Regions from separate parts of the Homo sapiens genome. Here region 1 is linked to region 2. Evidence: fine-mapped expression QTL. Tissue or cell type: whole blood. Region 2 holds a variant in brackets; the other region holds the start of a gene. All regions are shown on one strand. Distances are from middle to middle.

What was found. PIP is the estimated chance that this variant, and not a neighbour inherited with it, causes the effect.
Region 1: SLC7A6 starts here. The variant in region 2 is fine-mapped to the expression of SLC7A6 in whole blood (TOPMed, PIP above 0.99).

The regions. Positions count from the first base shown.
Region 1 is chr16:68,259,303-68,270,376 of GRCh38, forward strand. It overlaps SLC7A6 (solute carrier family 7 member 6), which reads left to right and starts at 5,224. Exons shown (of 11, transcript NM_003983.6): 1 at 5,224-5,274; 2 at 7,291-7,419. It overlaps PLA2G15 (phospholipase A2 group XV), which reads left to right. Exons shown (of 6, transcript NM_012320.4): 6 at 1-1,756. The coding sequence ends at 355. LOC124903704 (a long non-coding RNA gene) reads right to left here and starts at 5,155. Exons shown (of 3, transcript XR_007065096.1): 1 at 5,066-5,155; 2 at 3,885-4,112; 3 at 3,359-3,394. RefSeq lists a silencer at 5,110-5,389 and an enhancer at 5,762-6,961.
Region 2 is chr16:68,292,881-68,303,954 of GRCh38, forward strand. It overlaps SLC7A6 (solute carrier family 7 member 6), which reads left to right. Exons shown (of 11, transcript NM_003983.6): 8 at 1,825-1,921; 9 at 3,484-3,633; 10 at 3,747-3,930; 11 at 4,354-8,939. The coding sequence ends at 4,448. SLC7A6OS (solute carrier family 7 member 6 opposite strand) reads right to left here. Exons shown (of 5, transcript NM_032178.3): 4 at 9,501-9,621; 5 at 5,154-8,525. The coding sequence ends at 8,395. Among named protein-coding and RNA genes, the nearest start is that of SLC7A6OS, 13 kb to the right of the region's middle. RefSeq lists a silencer at 5,106-5,400. The variant G/A (reference allele first, on the strand shown) is at 5,964.

The DNA.
Region 1 (11,074 bases), 34 kb before region 2:
CCGCAAGTTCTTCCAGGACATCGGCTTTGAAGATGGCTGGCTCATGCGGCAGGACACAGAAGGGCTGGTGGAAGCCACGATGCCACCTGGCGTGCAGCTGCACTGCCTCTATGGTACTGGCGTCCCCACACCAGACTCCTTCTACTATGAGAGCTTCCCTGACCGTGACCCTAAAATCTGCTTTGGTGACGGCGATGGTACTGTGAACTTGAAGAGTGCCCTGCAGTGCCAGGCCTGGCAGAGCCGCCAGGAGCACCAAGTGTTGCTGCAGGAGCTGCCAGGCAGCGAGCACATCGAGATGCTGGCCAACGCCACCACCCTGGCCTATCTGAAACGTGTGCTCCTTGGGCCCTGACTCCTGTGCCACAGGACTCCTGTGGCTCGGCCGTGGACCTGCTGTTGGCCTCTGGGGCTGTCATGGCCCACGCGTTTTGCAAAGTTTGTGACTCACCATTCAAGGCCCCGAGTCTTGGACTGTGAAGCATCTGCCATGGGGAAGTGCTGTTTGTTATCCTTTCTCTGTGGCAGTGAAGAAGGAAGAAATGAGAGTCTAGACTCAAGGGACACTGGATGGCAAGAATGCTGCTGATGGTGGAACTGCTGTGACCTTAGGACTGGCTCCACAGGGTGGACTGGCTGGGCCCTGGTCCCAGTCCCTGCCTGGGGCCATGTGTCCCCCCTATTCCTGTGGGCTTTTCATACTTGCCTACTGGGCCCTGGCCCCGCAGCCTTCCTATGAGGGATGTTACTGGGCTGTGGTCCTGTACCCAGAGGTCCCAGGGATCGGCTCCTGGCCCCTCGGGTGACCCTTCCCACACACCAGCCACAGATAGGCCTGCCACTGGTCATGGGTAGCTAGAGCTGCTGGCTTCCCTGTGGCTTAGCTGGTGGCCAGCCTGACTGGCTTCCTGGGCGAGCCTAGTAGCTCCTGCAGGCAGGGGCAGTTTGTTGCGTTCTTCGTGGTTCCCAGGCCCTGGGACATCTCACTCCACTCCTACCTCCCTTACCACCAGGAGCATTCAAGCTCTGGATTGGGCAGCAGATGTGCCCCCAGTCCCGCAGGCTGTGTTCCAGGGGCCCTGATTTCCTCGGATGTGCTATTGGCCCCAGGACTGAAGCTGCCTCCCTTCACCCTGGGACTGTGGTTCCAAGGATGAGAGCAGGGGTTGGAGCCATGGCCTTCTGGGAACCTATGGAGAAAGGGAATCCAAGGAAGCAGCCAAGGCTGCTCGCAGCTTCCCTGAGCTGCACCTCTTGCTAACCCCACCATCACACTGCCACCCTGCCCTAGGGTCTCACTAGTACCAAGTGGGTCAGCACAGGGCTGAGGATGGGGCTCCTATCCACCCTGGCCAGCACCCAGCTTAGTGCTGGGACTAGCCCAGAAACTTGAATGGGACCCTGAGAGAGCCAGGGGTCCCCTGAGGCCCCCCTAGGGGCTTTCTGTCTGCCCCAGGGTGCTCCATGGATCTCCCTGTGGCAGCAGGCATGGAGAGTCAGGGCTGCCTTCATGGCAGTAGGCTCTAAGTGGGTGACTGGCCACAGGCCGAGAAAAGGGTACAGCCTCTAGGTGGGGTTCCCAAAGACGCCTTCACGCTGGACTGAGCTGCTCTCCCACAGGGTTTCTGTGCAGCTGGATTTTCTCTGTTGCATACATGCCTGGCATCTGTCTCCCCTTGTTCCTGAGTGGCCCCACATGGGGCTCTGAGCAGGCTGTATCTGGATTCTGGCAATAAAAGTACTCTGGATGCTGTAAGGTGCCCTGGCCTACATTCTGCTCTGAGCATGAGGGGAGGGAGGTGGTGGAGGTACAAGGTGGCTACAGAGGCAGGAAATTAGGGGCTGGGCCTTTACAGGAGCCTTGACAGGTTGTCTCAGCATCAAAGCATGGTTCCTGTGCCCTTCTGTGGACCTCATCCTCCTGTCCTCTCTCCTGGAATCCAGTTCCCTTCCTGGGACTAAGAACCAGAACCTGAAACATTCCTGTGGAAATGGGGTCCTGTCCTCCCCCTGCTCCTGCCTGGTCAGCAGGCCCCACATGCCACCCAGGAGCTGGGAGCAAGGACAGTCCTGCAGGTCACCCTGGCTACACCCTCCTTCCCAGCCTCTGTCCTCCCTCAGCTTGCAAGTGTCAGCATCCTTTGAACCTAGAGTTCTTTTTAGGATGCCACCCTTCTTTGCATCTTCAGCTCATCAGCCTGCCATCTGTACCCCTGGGGAGGTACAGATGAGAGAGATCAAGGGAGGAAAAGAGACTACTAGGCTGAGACTGGTATGGACAAAGACAGAAACAGAGACAGAGCCAAGGAAACATGGATAGGGGATAGGGTCCCAGCCTGAATTTTGTAGTCCAGAGCCCAGCCGGTACCCAGTTCTGTCTTAACTCAGCCCCACAAGCTGGGGCGCCAGACTTTGATACACCAGGGGCCACAAGAGGGCGCCCTGAACCCTCTCACTGAACCACCTGTTAGCCAAACCTGGAAGGACGAGGTGACCCAGAGTGGGGGTAAAAATGCCTGTGGTAAAAATACTGGGGTCCAGCTGCAGCTCTGGCCTCAGTAAAAGGATGACAACATGAAAGGGAGCTTCACCCCAGGCCCTGCCCAACCTGACTCCCTGCTTGGCCCTGACACCCCCCTACTCATGGCACCCCACTCATCCCTGACCCATTTTAGCTTCACCATCACCCTCAGTTTCATAGCTGCAGAGAGAAAGGGCATGGAATCAGAGGAGGCTTAAGGATCAGCATACTAGGGTTCAAATCTCAGCTCTACTAGCTCCAGCCAAGTTGTCTGGGGAGCCTCCTGACCCTCAGTTTCCTCATCCAAAGAATGGGGACATCTGGGTGCATTGGCTCACGCTTATAGTTCCACCTACTCAGGAGGCTAAGGTGGGAGGATCGCTTGAGCCCAGGAGTTTGAGACCAGCCTGGGCAAGACTTTATCTCTAAAGGTGAAATAGGCCGGGCGCCATGGTTCACGCCTGTGAGCCCAGCACTTTGGGAGGCCAAGGAGGGTGGATCACATGAGGTCAGGAGTTCAAGACCAGCCTGGCCAACATGGTGAAACCCCATATCTACTAAAAATACAAAATTAGTCAGGTGTGGTGGCACATGCCTTGTGGTCCTAGCTACTCTGGAGGCCGAGACAGGAGAATCACTGGAACCTGGGAGGCGGAGGCTGCAGTGAGCCAAGATGGCACCACTGCACTCCAGCCTGAGCAAGACAGAGCGAGATACATCTCAAAAAAAAAAAAAAAGATGAAATAAATCTGTAGTCCCAAGTAGGAAGCTGAGGCAGGAAGATCGCTTGAAACCAGGAGTTCGAGGCTGCAGTGAGCTATGATCACACCTGTGAATAGCCATTGCACTCCAGCCTGGGCAACAGCAAGATCTCTAAAAGCAAAAGAAAAGAATGGTTACAAATAAATGTATCCTGCAGGGTGGTCCTGAGGAACACTGATGGTGTTGGAGAACATCTGATTCAGGGTGTGGTGTACATTGGGCTTTCAGCTGATGGGCTACGTAACTGGGTATGAGACTGCAAAGCCAGACGGAGCTGGCATATGGTGTTTTTTTTTTTTTTTTTTTGAGATAGACTTTCGCTCTTATTGCCCAGGCTGGAGTGCAATGGCGCGATCTCGGCTTACTGCAACCTCTGCCTCCTGGGTTAAAGCGATTCTCCTGCCTCAGCCTCCTGAGTAGCTGCGATTACAGGCATGTGCCACCACACTCGGCTAATTTTGTATTTTTAGTAGAGACGGGGTTTCTCCATGTTGGTCAGGCTGGTCTCGAACTCCTGACCTCAAGGTGATCTGCCTGCCTCAGCCTCCCAAAGTTGTAGGATTACAGGCGTGAGCCACCAGGCCCGGCTGAGCCGGCATACCTTATATGAAGCTGTGGCAGGGACACGTGGGCTGGGTGCTGACACAAGTGTCCAGAGCTGTCCTTCTGCTCAGCCAGGGAGGCCGGAGGAACTGATCTGGGAGGCAAAGGGTGCAACTCGATTGATCCAAATATATACGTCCACTCACTGACACTTAGGGGAGGGGTTCCAAGCAGAGGGCAGGAGGGCAGCACCAGCGAGGATTCCTCAAGTATTGTCATCCCAGGCCTGCAGAGAGGAGAATGGAAGGGTTTTAGGCAGGGGAGATACAAAGTCATCGCAATCTGTATTCTAGGAGCATCCCCTACTCTGTGGAGATGGGGTAAGGGGAGCAGGATAGGGATTGAGAAGCCGTTGTGGCTGGGGAGAAGAAAACGAGGTATAGGCCGTGGGAGGAGTGGGGAGGAAGGGTCTGAGGTGCTACCCATCTCTGGCTGGGTCCCTGTCACTGGGTGGCAGGGAGCAGGGTCTTGGGTATGGTCTGGAACCAGAGGACGTGTACTTGTGGTCATAAGGCTGGGGGAAAAGATTCCAGGGCCCTGGAGAAAGTCAGTGCTTGAGGTGTGGACAGGAAATTTCGGAGGAGGGCTCAGGCGCCCATGAGGTCAGGAGGCTCTAGACAGAGAGCCCCAGAGCCACCAGAGGAAAAGGAACTCGAGAGAAAGATGGAGGAGCAAACAGAGGGAGGGGAAGGGGGCAGGAGGTGCAGCTCCCCCAAGAGGGGGGGCAGGAGGTGCAGCTCCCCCAAGAGGGGTGGCAGCCCTCTTGGGAAGATGAGGACAGAGCCCCAGGGAGGCCTGGGGTTGGCAAAGGGAGCCTGCAGTTTCTTTGTGGGTGCGGGGGCCTCAAGGGCTACGAGTCTGAGCTGTGCGTGTGTTTGGACAAGTCCCCAGAGTGTGTGTCTTCCTGGGGTTCCTAGACTGCGAGTGGCAGTGGCCCGGCGGCGGAGGCCGTTTGGATCCCTGTGTGAGCTGTAGGGGGCGCCCTGGGCGTCGGGCCCAGGTCAAGTGCGAGATAGGAACGGGGTGCGGGGGCCGATGAGAGCTCCCCGCGGGAATGTCCGCTGTGGACGCCCTCGGAGGCCCCATCTAACTCCAGGGCGGCGAGCGTGGCCGGGCCCAGTTCACGGGCTGCTCGAGCCCTGACGAGGCAGCTGGGGGCTGTCTGGCGTCCACGCTCACGTTCTGGGCCGGCGGACCCCGTACCGGCCAGGCCGTGGCGGCCACGGGGGCCCGGAAGCGCCGCCGCCAGCTGGCCCCGCACGGAACTGTGTCCCGACGCGGCGCGCGCTGTCGCGATCCGGCGGCGGGTGACGTGGCGGGGCGGGGCCTGAGCTGCCGCGGCGGCGGCGGCGCGACCGAGCATCCTGGCGGCGCCGGGCCACTGGGAGGTAACGGGCTGGGCCATGGGCGGGCGCGCCGGGAGCGGGGCCGGGGCTGGGCCGCGTTCTGTGGGAGCCGAACCCTGTGGGTCTTCGCTGCCGCCGTCGGGAGCGGGATGCGGCCCAGAAACAGCGCGGGGCTGGCCGATCGGGGCCGCGCGAGAGGCGCTGCGGGTGAGGGGGGGCGCCACGAGGAGAGAGGGACCTCGAGCGTGAGGGCCGAGTGTGGGAGAAACGCTGTATGGGTGCGAGCCCCGGAGGCTGATGGTGACCGCGAGGGAGCCAGTCTTGGGGTGTGCTGGCGACGCGGCGAGTGTGAGGGAGACCGGGGGTGTGTGTGGAGAGGGAAACCCCAGGTGCGAGGGTGACCGGGACGCTGAGTGCGCGGGCCGCGCCGCGAGCGTGAGACTGTGCGACGGTGACCCTGAGTGGGGCTGTGACTGCGCCTCCGACTGCAGGACGGAGAACCTGTGCTGTGTGGCGGCCGCGGTGGGGCAAAGAAAGACGCGGGCTCAGGACCTCAGGAGCCAGGCTTCCTGGGGCTGTCGCAAGAATGACGATTATCATTTTAAAATCAGTCCTTTTACTTTAGAGAATGCCGCAAGGTTTTGTGGCGTGCTGGAGCCTGGAGCGTTGGGCTGCTGGCGCTGGGGAACCCGCGTGCCCCTGGTGATTATGGCTCTTTTGAGCGTCCCTATAGCCTGTCATCTTGTGTGACTATCTCTCCTGAATGTGGGGAGATAGACGTGAAACATTCTGAAAATTCTTTGCTGGGCTCTAAGCAAACATGTTGTGTAATGGTCAGTATAAATAGGAATCAGGGTGTCGGCGAACACGTTTTTGAGTACCTCTTGTATGCCCTGGGCTTGGTGACACAGTTAAAAAGAATTCAGTCTCTGCCCTTGATAGGGGAAAAAGCCAGGGCAGCTCATCTCGCAGGGCGGCTGTTCAGTGCCCAGCCATCCGGGGCTTGTCTCTCAGAACTGCTCCCAGATTTCAGATCTGGGAGGAGCAGACTTGAAAGGCTGTGAGTACTTCCTTATATCAGTTCCACCTCTTTTTGGTGGCGGTGAGGCCTTTTGGGGACCTGCCCAGGCTGCCTGCATTACTCAGGTCCCATGTGTGCTGCGCAGACGGCTTTTGCTTCCCAACTTTGATCTCAGATCGTTATTCAAGTCGTTACACTGGAGTTTATTTTCCTGGCAAGTGTGTGGAAAACCACCAGCCTGATTTTCTCCTCTCTTCCTCTCCTTGTCCTCCTTCCCTATTTGGCCGTGGATGTATTTTTATTGCATATACCGGTTTTATGATCCCCATCTCCCTGGAACTTCTTAGTAGAAGAAATTTCCTGACCTTTGTGCTTCCTGCTGTAATTTCTTGGATGTATATTAGTTTCTAAAAAAGTTATGCAGGCCGGGCGCGGTGGCTCAGTCCTGTAATCCCAGCACTTTGGGAGGCCGAGGCAGGCGGATCACGGGGTCAGGAGATCGAGACCATCCTGGCTAACATGGTGAAATCCCGTCTCTACTAAAAATACAAAAATTGAGCCAGGTGTGGTGGTGGGCACCTGTAGTCCCACCTACTCGGGAGGCTGAGGCAGGAGAATGGCTTGAACCCGGGAGGCGGAGGTTGCAGTGAGCCAAGATTGCGCCATTGCACTCTAGCCTGGGCAACAGAGCGAGACTCCATCTCCAAAAAAAAAGAAAAAAAGTTATGTAAACGGTGCCCACGGGACCTGGGGCCCCAGAGCTGCCTAGACTTACATGATTTAATGTGACAAGGCCAGTTCTCTGACAGGTTTGGGCTGGCTACTTCAGTTATACCCACCCTGTGGGTGTCATGGAACCTGCTAGTAATTAGGACTGCCCCTGCCGGGCATGTAAAATTTAGATTTTACAAGGAAATATCATTCTGCTGCTTTCTTGGTTAATTAAAAATAATTACATATATATATATATTTAAATCAGCTTTCTCAGGTTAAAAGAGTTCATTTTTTGATCAGTTCCCTCCCACTCTTTGTTGCAGAGTTTATGTGGCCGAGGCAGACAAGTGGAATTAGGCCTTGCTGCAGGGGACTTCATTTCCTTCTCAGTACTGGACCCATTTATGAGGAGGTGGCTTATGAAAGTGTGATGTTCGCGTATTTCTTGACAGGTGAATATTGTTGCGCTGTCTTTTCTTTTGTTTGTGTGATTTACAAAGAGTTTTTACTTGTATACAGTGTGAATACAATACTAGTAAACAGAATGGCTTACACATAATTAACAACTCTTTAGTATTACATATTAAATAACACTGTAATTTATTATAAAAATAAATTATACATTTATTTATATTACAATTCTTTATAAAGAGTAATTGTGGTGGGTTTTTTCTTTTTTTTTGGAGACAGTGTCTCACTCTGTCACCCAGGCTGGGGTGTGGTGGCGCAATCTCTGCTCACTGCAACCTCTGCCTCCTGGATTCAAGCGATTCTCCTGCCTCAGCCTCCCAAGTAGCTGGGATTACAGGCGCCCGCCACCATGCCCAGCTAATTATTGTATTTTTAGTAGAGACGGGGCTTTACCATGTTGGCCAGGCTGGTCACGAACTCCTGAGCTCAGGCAATCTGCCCGTCTCAGCCTCCCAATTGTGGTGGATTTTTTTTTTTTTTTTTTTTTTTTTGAGAAGGAGTTTCGCTCTCATTGCCCTGGCGGAGTGCAATGGTGCGATCTTGGCTCACTGTAACCTCCACCTCCCGGGTTCAAGTGATTCTCATGCCTCAACCTCCCGAGTAACTGGGATTACAGGTGCCCACCACCATGCCCGGACAATTTTTTGTATTTTTAGCAGAGATAGGGTTTCACTATGTTGGCCAGGCTGGTCCCGAACTCCTGACCTCAGGCGATCCACCCGCCTCAGCCTCCCAAAATGCTGGGATTACAGGTGTGAGACACCGCGCCTGGCCATAACTCAGAGAGTTTTATAAGAAAAAGTCCTCTGTGTTTTCACCATAGTTAAGATTTTGATTCAACCAGAGGGGGGAATAAAAAGATTTTGATGTATTTCTCTGTGATATAGCAAAATATTTTTTGGTCTTCAGCCCGTTTCCTAGCATACAACTCCTAAAATACTTAGAAAGATCAAAGTAATGTCTTTTTGTATGCTGATGGCTGGTGGCTGGCAGCCCCTAGAAAGCTTCAGGATGGGGGCTGGTCACTGGAAAGACCAAGTCAGGATTAGAGGGTTGGGACTTTGAGCCCTACCCCCAACCTCCGGGGAGGGGAGAAAGGAGGAGGGTGAGGTTAAGTTGATCACTAATGGCCAGTGGCTTAATCACTCATGCCTATGTAATGAAGCCTCTATAAAAACCCAAGAGGCTGGGGGTTTGGGGAGCTTCCGGATAGCTGGACATGTGGAGGTTCCTGGATGGTACTTCTCCCTGGGAGGACAAGGAAAGTCTGTGACCCTTCCCCCATATGTGGCTCTGCAAACCTCTTCATCTGTATCCTTTGTAATAGCCTTTATAATATACAAGTAAAGGTAAGTAAGTGTTTCTCTGAGTTCTGTGAGCCGCTCTAGCAAATTAATTGAACTGAAAGAGGAGTCTTGGGAGCCCCAACTTGAAACAGTTCGGTCAGAAGTTCAGGAGGCTTGGATTTGTGCCAGGTATCCTGTTGGGGAGGGGCAGTCTTGTGGAACTGAGCCCTTCTGCTGTGGGATCTGATGCTGTCTCCAGGTAGATAGTGTTGGGATTGAACTGGAGGACACTCAGCTGGTGTCCCTGGGGAGAAATGATTGCTTGTTAGTGGGGAACCCTCCCCCTCCGGCATTTGGTCACAGAACTCTTCTGTGTTGATTATTGTGGTGTGAGAGTACACAGTAAAAATGGTTTTGAGTTTTTCCAAACATTCTCAATAGCATTTTTTCCTTTAGTCATTACAAAAATTTTGGTTTCAAATCCACTTTGTAAAACTTCCTTTGTAATCGAGCTTTTCCCCCCTTTCATCCCGTTTTCTGATGTAATTGAATTGTGATAAATTCATTTATTCCAAAAATTGCTTGTGGCAGTTTCGTGGTTAAATTTTCATGGGGAAATTTTGGTAGTCTGTTAAATTCCTTTATTACCTGCTGCAGGAGACTGCAGGAATTTAAAATTTTTAAAAATTTTTTTGTTGGCTGGGTGTGGTGGCTCACGCCTGTAATCCCAGCACTTTGGGAAGCCGAGGCAGGCGGATCACCTGAGGTCCCAGGAGTCCGAGACCAGCCTGACCAATATGGTGAAACCCCGTCTCTACTAAATACAAAAAATTAGCTGGGTGTGGTGGCGCATGCCTGTAATCCCAGCTACTCGGAAAGCTGAGGCAGGAGAATAGCTTGAACCCAGGAGGCGGAGGTTGCAGTGAGCCAAGATCGCGTCATTGCACTCCAGCGTGGGCAACGAGCGAAACTCCGTCTAAAAAAAAAAAGAGCAAAAATACGTATTAAAAAATATTTACCTAGGCTATTTGATATTGCCCCACAGGTTGATGTTCTGTTCTATTTTTTCACTTTCTCCATTTTGACCCTTTTGGTTTTCATCTCACTGCTAAAGTTCCACATTTGTTTCTGCATGCTGTTCAACTTTTTCAGTAGAACCTTAAATGTATCAAACACAATTATTTTAAATTCCTTGTTTGATGTTTCCATTATCTGGGTCATCTCTCAATATGGTCCTATTGATTACTTTTCCTCTTGATAGTGGGTTGTTTTTCTTGCTTTTTTTATGTTGCTTGTAACTTGTTACTGATTGCCAGATACCGTGTGTGGAACAGTAGAGACTGAGGTATATAGTATTTATTTTGGGAACTGGGTACAGCTCTTCTTTGCTAGACTGTTTGTATGGGAGTTTGAACTCCTAGTCAGGAGACAGTAGTGTTTGGGTGTTATTGTTGCTATGGTTACGTTAGGTGCACCAATGACTTCAAATTCTTCTCATGTTTCCTTGCCAGCTTACGGTTGGTTTGCAGGAGGGAGGCTTTTTCTCAGTGGTTATCCTCCATCCATACCCTCAGTTTATTAGCCAGGCATGGTAGTGCACACCTGTAGTCCCAGCTACTTGGGAGGCTGAGGCAGGAGAATCCCTCGAACCCAGGAGGTGGAGGTTACAGTGAGCCAAGATTGTACCACTGCACTGCAGCCTGCGTGACAAAGCAAGACTCTGTCTCAAAAAAAAAAAAAAGAAAGAAAAAAGGTCTCACTCGGTCATCTCACTCTGTCACCAAGGCTGGAGTGCCCGTAGTGCCATCATGGTTCACTGCAGCCTCCCAACTCCTGAACTCAAACTTACCTCTTAGCTTTCTGAGTAAATAGCTGGGGCTATAGGCGTGTGCCATCATGCCTGGCTACTTTTTAATTTTTTTTTGTAGAGATGGGGTCTTGCTATGTTGCCCAGGCTAGTCTCGAACTCTTGGCCTCAAGTTCCTCCAGCCTTAGCCTCCAGAGTAGCTGAGATTACAGGTGTAAGCCACTGCGTCCAGCCACCCTCAGCTTTAGGATTTCTCTGTGCACCTATGCCTCAGTGCACAGTCTCAGTGGTAGACTACTGTTGCTTGTTCCTGGGTGCTTGCTAACCTGGTGGTAGGGAGTAGGGATTTCTCTGTTGTCTGGTTCAGCCTCAGTCTTAAGCAGGCCCTGTTTGTTTCCCTGGGTCTTGGGAGTGGATCTTTCTGGGTGCTCCTGCCCTTTTCCCAGGAGAAAGACACCTCCGGTGGTCTTGCCCAGAATTTCCTACCCCTCCTCCAGGCATAGAGGTTTTTTTTTTCTTTTATCCTGCCCCAGCTGCCTCAGG
Region 2 (11,074 bases):
ATACATGAGAAGAAAATTTCTTTCCTGATTTCTCTTCCACTCACTCTATAACTGGTGTTGTCCCCAGGGCCGGGGGTATAATAGTCATCCAATAAATATTTGCCATGTGAACACACAGAAGCATGAAAAATAAGAGAGAGTTTTGTCCCGTTCATTCTTTTTACTGGTTTTCACACACCAGTCCATGTGTTGTGCCTCCCTGGGGCAAGCAAAGAATTAGAGAAGTCAAGGCCTTGTAAAAGAACATAGTGTCCAGCTGGGCGTGGGGCTCACACCTGTAATCCCAGCACTTTGGGAGGCTTAGGCGAGAAGATTACCTTAGGTCAGGAGTTCGAGACCAGCCTGACCAATATGGTGAAACCCTGTCTCTACTAAAAATACAAAAAAAGAAAAATTAGCTGGGCATGGTGGCACGTGCTTGTAGTCCCAGCCGCTCGGGAGGGTGAGGCAGGAGAATTGCCTGAACCCAGGAGGCGGAGGTTGCAGTGAGCCGAGATCGCGCCATTGAACTCCAGCCTGGGCTACAGAGCGAGACTCCATCTCAAAAATAAAAAAAGTAGTGTCACCTTCCCTCTGCTCAGCCTAGTTGTGATAGATGGACTTCTTTTCTAGCCTTTCCCTGACACCCTAGCCTCCCCCTGCTCTAGTTTGCTCTCCAGTCTGGTGTCAAATCCCGTCAGGCCCTTACCTCAAAGCCACAGCTGACTGTGTTTGTTCAGACTCCACAGTGTGGCCTTGTATGCAGGTTCTTCCCAGCACCCTCTTCTCACACAGCTTGTCCTGGGGCTCTAGGCATTCTACATCAACCTCCAAAGAGGCCACGCTCTTTCATACCTCCACACATTTTGCCTATGCACATGCTCGTTTTTTCCACCTACCGACTTGCTTCTGGAAACTCTTCTTTGCATCTCTCCTCTTGCAAAGCATTTTGGCACAAGCCTCAAGCCTAGCGAGTGAGTGTCGTGTACTCCAAGGTGATGCTGACCATGCTGGGGACAGTTCATTTCTGTGCCAGTCTTTTTTTGTTTGTTTTTGAGATGGAGTTTTACTCTTGTTGCCCAGGCTGGAGTGCAATGGTGCGATCTCGGCTCACTGCAACCTCCGCCTCCTGGATTCAAGTGATTCTCCTGCCTCAGCCTCCCGAGTAGCTGGGATTACAGGCATGTGCTACCGCGCCCGGCTTATTTTGTATTAGTAGAGACAGGGTTTATCCATGTTGGTCAGGCTGGTCTCAAACTCCCGACCTCAGGTGATCCACCTGCCTCGGCTTCCGAAAGTGCTGGGATTATAGGCATGAGCCACCATGCCTGGACGCTGTGCCAGTCTTTTTCCCAGTCGGTAGAGCTCTTTAGGTGTAGAAAGGAAGCCTGGGTTGTCTCTCTGACCCTCAGTCTTGCCTTACATCAGCTCAGGGAAAATATATGGAGGGCATGAACAGAAATCTGGCTGCCCTTTAAAAGCTATTATGTTAGCTATGAATCTGGCATGGATTGGGTGAGTCTGTTAGTGGGTGACAGCAGGGTGAGGCATCTGTTGGATGTTGGTGAGGTATCTGTGGCTGAGAGAAGAGGGGGTATCTGGGTGATGGTGGGTGGGGCATCTGGGTAGTGGTGAGGTGCCCGGGGATGAAGAGGGAGGGAAAATCTGTAGGGAAGGGGGGAGCAGGGAGGTTGGACTGGTGATGCACTAAGGACCTGGGATGCTCCTGGGAGGCTGCATCCTGCTTTCCTCGGGGGCTCTGAGCTGAGTTTGTCCAAGTGAGGAGTGAGTATGGCTGAGTAAAAGGAGTAAAGGATCCTGCTGACACATTTCTCATCCTTCTAGGTTGTTCTTCGTGGGCTCCCGGGAGGGCCACCTACCGGACCTTCTGTCCATGATCCACATTGAGCGTTTTACACCTATCCCTGCTTTACTGTTCAATGTAAGCTTTGCTGGGACCACGGGGCTCAGGTGGATCTGTGCATTGCTCCTTCTGATTTGTGCTAAGTTGTTAAATAAGAGGGACCCTGAGAAAGGCCTTACTCTAAGATGTGAAAAACAGTTCATTTTTTGTTGTCATTTAATTCTTTTATGGTTTTATTACGTTTAATTTTGGATTAATCTGGAATTTATATTATAGCATAGTATTGAGAAAGGTGGGGATTCACTTAATTTTTTCTCGAATGGCAGCCAGCTATACCAATATCGCTCACTCAACAATCCATTTTCCCACAGTTTTCAAACTTTTATCACAGAAAATTAATAGCTAATTTTTTTAGGGTCCTTAATATGTGCCAATTATTATTGTATGCCCCTTAAATGTGCCATCTCAACTAATCCTCCCCATCAGCACCAAGTCTCCTTAGTTTAGCTTTATACTGACTATCTGAAAACTAAAGAGGGACCAAGGGTACTTCTTTAGTCCCCCCGCCCTTGGAATTTTCCTAGCAATTCTCATATTCGTTTATTTGTCTTGATGAACTTTTCTATCATTTCATCAAAGTAAGAGAAAAATTCTCTTGATATTTTGACAGGGCCAGCATTGAATTTATAAATTTAGGAGGTTATCTGACTATAGGCACACACCACCAGGCCTGGCTAATTTATTTTTTGTAGAGATGAGGTCTCACTATGTTGCCCAGGCTGGTCTTGAGCTCCTGGGCTCCAGTGAGCTGCCACTTCAGTCTCCCAAAGTGCTGGGATTATAGGCACAAGCCACCACGCCCAGCCTTCTCTTCTTAATACAGGGTTCTCCCTTATCTCCACAGAATGAGCTATTTGGTTTTAAATCCTTTGTTGATAATTTGTAATGAAAAGATTATTGAAGTTTAAACACATTTGACCTTGTCCCAGGACCCTAGGCCCTAATCCTTGCCTTCTAGGATTCTTTTGTTCCAGAAGCTAATGCTGTCTTATGTCTGGATGGATCCATTTTGCTAGTTTCCAGGTCCAACACCTGACTTCAGAGGCCTGAAATGCTACAATTTCTCCCTCTGGCTCAAAATTCTTCCATGGGGAGAGAGTTAGATTCCATTATTTATTGACATTATTTAGTCCAGATGGGTAGGGATCCAATTGCTAGTTAGCATTTCTCAGGCCTGAGGACAGTGAGATGGTTCTGAAGGCGTTTCCCCCATTTGTATGCCAGGCAGTCGGGACCCAGGTCTAACCCCTCTCTAGGACACCGTGTAATCCATGTTAAGGTTGCTGCACTGAAGTGAGGAGGGCCTCAGCGTCTGCCTTTTTCTAAAGTGCTTGCAACAAGGGGGAGGCATTGAGTGGAGGAAGGGCTGCAACAGAAGGGGGAAAGATGCTACCCTGAGGGTTAATGTACCTCAGGGTACATCAAGGAATGGACCTATCTGATGCCAAGGGGTCAATGAAAAGAGCCAGAGGTAATCTGGTGAAGTGGCATCAGATCTAGTACTGACTGCTGGGTGGGGGAGTCTCCTGGGGGCGCAGGTGGTGACGATGCTCACCTGTCTCCCCACCCCTTTCCCACAGTGCACCATGGCACTCATCTACCTCATCGTGGAGGATGTTTTCCAGCTTATCAACTACTTCAGCTTCAGCTACTGGTTCTTCGTGGGCCTGTCTGTTGTTGGACAGCTCTACCTCCGCTGGAAGGAGCCCAAGCGGCCCCGGCCTCTCAAGGTCAGCAGCTCTGGCCAGACTAGGAGGGGTGGGCCATCTCCCTAAGGTGGCTTCTTGCCCACGAGCTGTTTCCTCTTCCCACGTTACTTAATCTCTCACCCCCTCTATTTCAGCTGAGCGTGTTTTTCCCCATCGTGTTCTGCATATGCTCCGTGTTTCTGGTGATAGTGCCCCTCTTCACTGACACCATTAATTCCCTCATTGGCATCGGGATTGCCCTTTCTGGAGTCCCTTTCTACTTCATGGGTGTTTACCTGCCAGAGTCCCGGAGGCCATTGTTTATTCGGAATGTCCTGGGTGAGCTTCTCTGTGCCCCATTACTCACTGGCGGCTATGTGTGCATGCGCATGCAGAGGTGGGGGGTGGCTAACAGCTTCCCCATACTCAGAATTTGCTGGAGGCCATGTGACCCAGCTGTCCACGACTTCCCTTTTGATTTTGACATGATCACTTTAGTTCTAATTTTAGTGTCCTATTTTGGGGCTAAAACATTACCTCCTGACAACACAAATCACCTGGGAAGATGAGTTGTGCATCAGACTCTGGTTGGGCATGGGACAGAGGATGATGAGGCTTGTTGGGAGACAGGGGCAAAGCCTGATATAGGGTACTTAAGGGGCAGGTGGCGAGGGAGCCATAGATGTTACTAGTCAGCCTTGTTCAGGTTAGGGCTGTAGCTAGATGTTTACTAAACCCTGTGCTTGCTCTATTTTCATTTAGCTGCTATCACCAGAGGCACCCAGCAGCTTTGCTTTTGTGTCCTGACTGAGCTTGATGTAGCCGAAGAAAAAAAGGATGAGAGGAAAACTGACTAGAGGTCAGAGGTGGCTTTCTGAGGCCTGGAAGGCAGGCCAACCAGCAAAATCCTGATAACAAGACTCTGTGGGCCCAACTCTCCTGAATTAAAGGAGCCTTTTGACCCAATCATATAGTGGGGCTCAGGGCCAGTGCTCACTCTTATTGGTAAGCTATAGGAGACTCAGGATCTGGGCCAACCTCAAGGTGGGGGCTTCAGAGGGTGGGGGGAAGATTGGGGAACGGGGGGAATGGTCATTTAGTTTTACTCCTGATAGGTAGATGCAGCTCTTACAGATATTTACTTGGTAAAGTGCAGTGGGGAAGAGGGAATGCTAGGTTGATAGGGCTGGTGGCTTCTGAATTTGGTATTTGAACTAGGAGTCCCTATAGAGGGGCTGCTTTATGGGAAGTTTTTCTCTGACCAGGTACAACACCTGACTTTAAAGGCCTGAAATGCTACCATTTCTTCCTCTGGCTCAAAATTCTTCCCTGGGGAGAGAGTTATATTCCCTTATTTATTGATATTTAGTCCAGAACACCAGTTCTAACGAAGCATGCGTGTCTCTTCATCTACAGGATGCAATAGGCTGATTGTATTTAAAAATCAAAGTACCCAAAACTGAGTCCCTTTGGGCTCAGAAATGTCTGTGGTATTGGGTCAGACTCTGACCACAGGTTTTATGCTGTTTAGCACAATTTCTATTGAGTCTTACCTGCAACAATGAACCTTAAAGATTTTTTTACTCACGTACCTGTTACACTTTAGCATACAGATAGATCATAGATCACGTTACAAGCACTTGGCTCAGGTCCAGCAAGGACAGATGAACAAATTCCTGAGTCAGAAGTCTGTTAATATTGCTGTTTTGAAGGACAATCCTTTATTTTACTTGAGACCTTACATCTTTGTTCTAGCTGACAGTAAATCTCTGGGTTTCTGTTACGAACTCTAAGAGGGCTGAAACTTCTGATATTCAGGTGGATCACCTGAATTCTCTCAGCTGTCAATGGCTTGGAGAACATCTCATGGGCCCAAGTCATCAAATAACCTGTTCCTCTCTGTAAGGGCAGTGTGAGGGACTGCTGTGCAGACCCAAGCAATCCCAACCTGGTGCTAGGTCATTTCACTTTTCTGAAAACCTCACATCAGGCTGCATCCTCTTCTGTCCCTGGCACCAGGCTTTGTTTACACTTGGAGCCACCTTGGTGTGGGTCACCGGGACAGTGTACTCCTCTCCTGCCAGCCTCCCCTTCCCCGAGGTGTGGTGGCTGCAGTCTCAGGAAGAGCTTGGTACTTGTGGGGACTTCTGTTTTCTCCCTGTGGAGATCAGTGAAGACTGGGAGGAAAGCTGCTTCAACCTGAGTCCGGCTCTTCAGCAGGCTGCACAAGTGGAAGCAACTAATTCTGGTGCTCAGGCTGGGCTCTCCACCCAAGTTAGGCCTGCTCTGGCCTAATGGATCTTACTGTATGAGCAGGACGGCTGCATTGGATTGTACAACTGTTTTGTGATGCCCCCAGACACTGTCATCCT[G/A]GGCCGAGAAGAACCTGCTAGCTTGACATACCCCATGGGCTTATCCTTAGGTTTTGGAATTGGTCAACAGTGAGGCAGTCTCCCTTCCTGACCATTCTTCTCCACCCAGTCACAGATAAGGGAATAACCTTGGCCATATATTTGCTCAATAAAGATTGAAGGAAGCATGGTCATAGTTGCCCTGGGTTCAGAGCATAATGCATATGTGAAGCATGGGGTGACATTCCTACTGTCATGGGTTTGGGATTTGTAACGGCAAATTCCTGCCCGACGACAGGGTGTCTTATGCAAAGGCTGACTTGCCTGAACGCTAAGAACATGACTTCTGTCTGAGCTAAGCTGGCACCCATCCCAGGGCTCCTCTGGAGCTAATCCTTTAAGCAAAATGTGCTTGCCTTTTAAAGATCCCTGACCCCAGCTTTAGCTTTCTCCACCAGATAACCAGCTAATCCCAGGAATTTGCTGCCCCCCACCAGTGGCTTCTAGGGAAAGCAAGGACCTCACATGCCAGGTGCCCTAGTACTTGCTTAGTGAGCCATGTCATCCTCCTTTCATTTTTGGATGGTGACAGCATTTTTCCCCTCTGTGCTGGATACAGACTTCTCCCAGGATCCTCTCTTTGGGAGCGAAGCCAGAGGATCCCTACAGCACTCAAGCTTCATGGTGGAATTAATTTCTGCCAGCTCTTTGTTGTCTGTCTCCTTAAATCCTTTTCCTGGTGTGCTTATTATCCCTTTTGCAGTGAGTACAGTTTATTAAGTTGTCAGCCCTTTAATATTGGGGAAACTTAATGAGTATAAATAGCAGGGAGCACATTGTAACAGCACAGTGTTTTGTTTTTTTCACCCGGTTGCTGTATGAGAATGGCTTTCAATCCTTTGTTTCTATGCCTACAGACAGAAAGCAAGATGTCTAATATTAGACATACAAGTTGCTGCCTGTTATAACGGTGAATTATACCTTTGTGCATGCCTAGGATGTTTGTTGTTTTAATTAGCTGCAATATATACGGCCTGTGTACACAGAATTTAATCACTTCGGCAGGTTGAACAACTCCATGTAGATAAGAGCAAGTGTAGGCAAAGGTTTAGAAAATGGACATAAAGTCAAAGAATGATGGCAGGTAGGATGAAGGAGAGATACTTAGGAAATCCTAAAAGAGGCGGCAAGAAGGTACCTCCCTGTGTAACTCACCTTCCCCCATGACAGTGAGTAAGAGACACTCACAGGCTATGAGGGTACACCCCTAGCTGAATGTTCTGTGTTGTTTCCTTAGACCTGTGGTGTCCGCTGCAACAGCTACTAGCCACGTGTAGCTAATTACATTAAAATGAAATAAAATTAAAAGCTCAGTTTCTCAGTTGCGCTAATCACATTTCAAGTGCTCAGCAGCCACCCGTGTCTACTACTACACAGTGCAGACACAGAACATATCATCACTGCAGATAGTTCTACTGGACAATGTTACGCTAGAATAAACACCAAGGCAGTCAGTTAAGGCAGCTATGGTTTGGAAAGGCATACGGACAGAGTCTGCTTAGAAGAGATACAAGTTGTTAATAAAATTGATCCTGTTGATAGTAGTTTGTTTTTGTGGTGGGTGCTGTGAAGAGTAAACATTACTCAGTGGAAAGCTAAGTTCAGAAGGTACTTTGTTTTTCCTCCCTTGCCTTAAGTCCTTGGTATTTATAATCAATGCTGAACCTTCTATTTCACTACCGCTCCCTGTTTTAGATATTCAGATTTAAAAGGTTTTCAAAGAATTACTTTCTTCCATGTTCAAAGCTAGATTTTACTAAACACATGTATCACATTCATATATATTGTTTCTTGGCCCCACTGCCAAAGGAAGTCAGTCAGTAATTTCACAACCGTTATCAGAGTTTGGAAGCAGAAATAGCTGTTAACTAAAATCTCCCACTGCTCAGACTACTTTCTGCCCTAATGGCCATTACTATCCAGTCTGTATTGCTACAAGGGACCCACTGGTACCCCTTTTAGATTCTATCAAAAGGAACAGGGTTTTCCTAGAGGCAGGCAGCCTGGTGGTATGGCACAGCAGAAGCTTACTGCTAATGAAATGGGAACCTCCCCCTCCCTTGTGGTTTCAGCACAGAACCTGAATGCCAGGAAAAATTCCTGGGCCAAGAAGCTAAAGCTAAAGAAACCTTCCTTTTTTCAACGTTTTTTTTTCTTTCAAACTGTAGGGTCACTTTTGATTGAGGCAAAGGGGTCCTACTGTAAGTGGAAAAGACTCACTCCCCTAACATAAGTTTTCACTGTGGTGGGATGGTGCCGCCCGATATGCTTGATATGCTTTTCCTTCCACATGTTAAGCTAGGAAACCTAACAGGATGTCAGCAGGGCAGTTAACTCTGGACTCAGAGCCCTCAAGGGCATGTGGCAGAACCTCATGGACATCACAAGACCATCAGTCTGAATCCAGGTCGTGGGGGCTGTCATAGCCGAACTCCTTCTGCACATCCAGAGGGTACTTGCTCCACATCCGCTGTCTGCTGCTGCCTCTTTCCTCCTCACTCAGGCTGTTGTAGTCAGCAGAGCCTAGAATGACATCCCGGGAGTGGATTCTAAATGTGATTTTCCTAGGCTACTGCAGGAGCCCCTTCTCTTCTCAGAAAGGTCTGTTTTTGTTCCCGATTGTAATGCAAAATCCTTGCTCAATAAATAAAAAAGAATATAGAATTCTTTTTTTTTTAAAGAAGGAATCACTTTCCTATCATCTAAACCAAGTTCCTTCACACTGGAGTATTTTGTCACTTCTCCCCTCCGTGGAGTATTTTGTCACTTCTCCCCTCCGTATAGGATTTTTTGTTGTTGTAAGAGTTGTAGTCATATTGTAAATATTTTTGTACCTTTCTCCTTTTAACGTGTTATTGACAAACCTCCCCAAAAGAATATGCAATTGTTTGATTCATTTCTCTGTTATCAGACACCAATAAATTCTTTTTGTTGGGCCTTCTTCTCTCTTCTTTAATATAGTTACTACGGGAATTATGTTGTCAGAGCATCTTTCTTCTTCCCCCAGGTATTATGTCTGTGTTGCATCTTTCTCAAAACAGTTGTACATGCAGCAGTTTTTTGAGAAGTTAGATAACTGATTTGTGAAAACTCTGGGCTTATTCCTACTGGCAAACCTCTCTCTTCATTGGTTTCTTGACTGGGGCAGGGGAAGAGACAATGAGCTACATATTTTACATAATCTCAACCACTAAAATTCATGCAGAACCATCTCATTTGGAGAGAAAATGAGGCTCAGTGAGGTGAAGTAACTGCCCAAGAGCCACAGCAAAGTAATGACAACTACAGATTTGAATCCAGGCCTGATGGATTATTACACCCCCAGGAGGCCCCTGGGAAACACTGGTCTTTGGGTCTCCTACAGCATGGCTCAGTTGCGGCTGGGCTGCTGGCGCTCAATGACAGAGAAGGAAAGGCAATTAAGATGCACCTGTCAACTATGCCTGCACCTCAGTCTCAGATCCTACCAGTCCCTCCCGGTCTGGGGCTGCCACCCACCTCTGGAATCCTCATCTCCATCACTGCTCTCCTCCTCTGGGTACTCATTGCGCCAGTTATTCTCACTGTTCTCGTCATCTTCATCGTCGTAAATGTCCTCTGGTTCTTGATCATCATTCACCTACACATCTCAACACAAACATGAGTCCAAGTCAAAACCTCTAAGGTTATGCTCTGGGGGAAGTTGTTAGCATACCAGCTTGAAGAGATATCATGTAAAAGTGCCCTGTGAAAAAACTGCAGACTAGTAGTTTGACTCCATTGCACAAGAGGCTATGAGAGGGAGATAATAGCCCCCTTCCACTCAGAGCCCAGCTCCACAATGATAGGACATGCTGGACCCCATGAGAAGGGAACACAGGGAAAAGAGGAGTGATGGCTCTGAGCGATTCCTTCAAATTCCAAAGGTCAAAACCAAAACCCAAGCGTAAGAGGTGCGGAAAGGCAGGAGGAAGGGCCATGCAGTGGTCCAAGGTGGGTACCTGACTGCAAATCTGTCCTAATGCAGGTGCAGGATGCAGTGCTTCTTGATTATAGTCTGAGCATGACCATTAGGTGCCACCTTAAGTTTTCTTGTTAAGCATTTTAGAATTTGAGAATAGGCTGGGCGCGGTGGCTCACGCCTGTAATCCCAGCACTTTGGGAGGCCGAGGTGGGTGGATCACTTGAGGTCAGAAGTTTGAGACCAGCCTGGGCAACATGGTAAAACCTTGTCTCTACTAAAAATACAAAAATTAGCCAGGCATGGTGGCATGCACCTGTAGTCCCAGCTACTTGGGAGGCTGAGGCAGGAGAATCGCTTGAACCCAGGAGGCGGAGGTTGCAATGAGCCAAGATTGCACCATTGCACTCCAGCCTGGGTGACAGAGCGAGACTCCATCTCAAAAAAAAAAAAAAAAAAGATAATGGTGTCAGCTAGGTGTGGTGGCTCACACCTGTAATCCCAACACTTTGGGAGGCCAAGGTGGATCACTTGAGCCCAGGAGTTCAAGACCATAAGACCAGCCTGGACAACATAGTGAGACCCTGCCTCTACAAAAAAATCAACAAAAATTGGGCATCATGGTGCATGCCTGTACTCCTGGCTGGCTGCTTGGGAGGCTGAGATAGGAGGATTGCTTGAGCCTGGGAGATAGAGGCTGCAGTGAGCTCAGATAGCACCACTGCACTCCAGCCTGGGTGACAGTGTGAGACCTTGTCTCAAAAAAGAAAAAAAAAAAAGAATAATGTCAGGACGTTAGCTTTCTTCATCCGAGGTTTCTCTACTTCTAAGGTACGAATTAAAAAATAGATTTTGTTGTCACTCATGTTAAGAATTTCTGATTTTATCGTCTTTATCTTATCATAAGCCCCATATACATATTTCCCCCCTAAGAATGGATAGCTATAAACAATAAAGGTGATGTTGCAAACCTTGTAAAATATTCATTAATGTAAAAATGATCAATCTAAGATGATCTTTCCCCAAATTCCCTGTACTATAAAGTCAGGTTCCTAAAAGGCACTTAGAATAATTTCTTCCTTTTCAGGAGGAAAAGAACTAAGGACAATGTTGTTCGGGAGTGGAGCCCAGG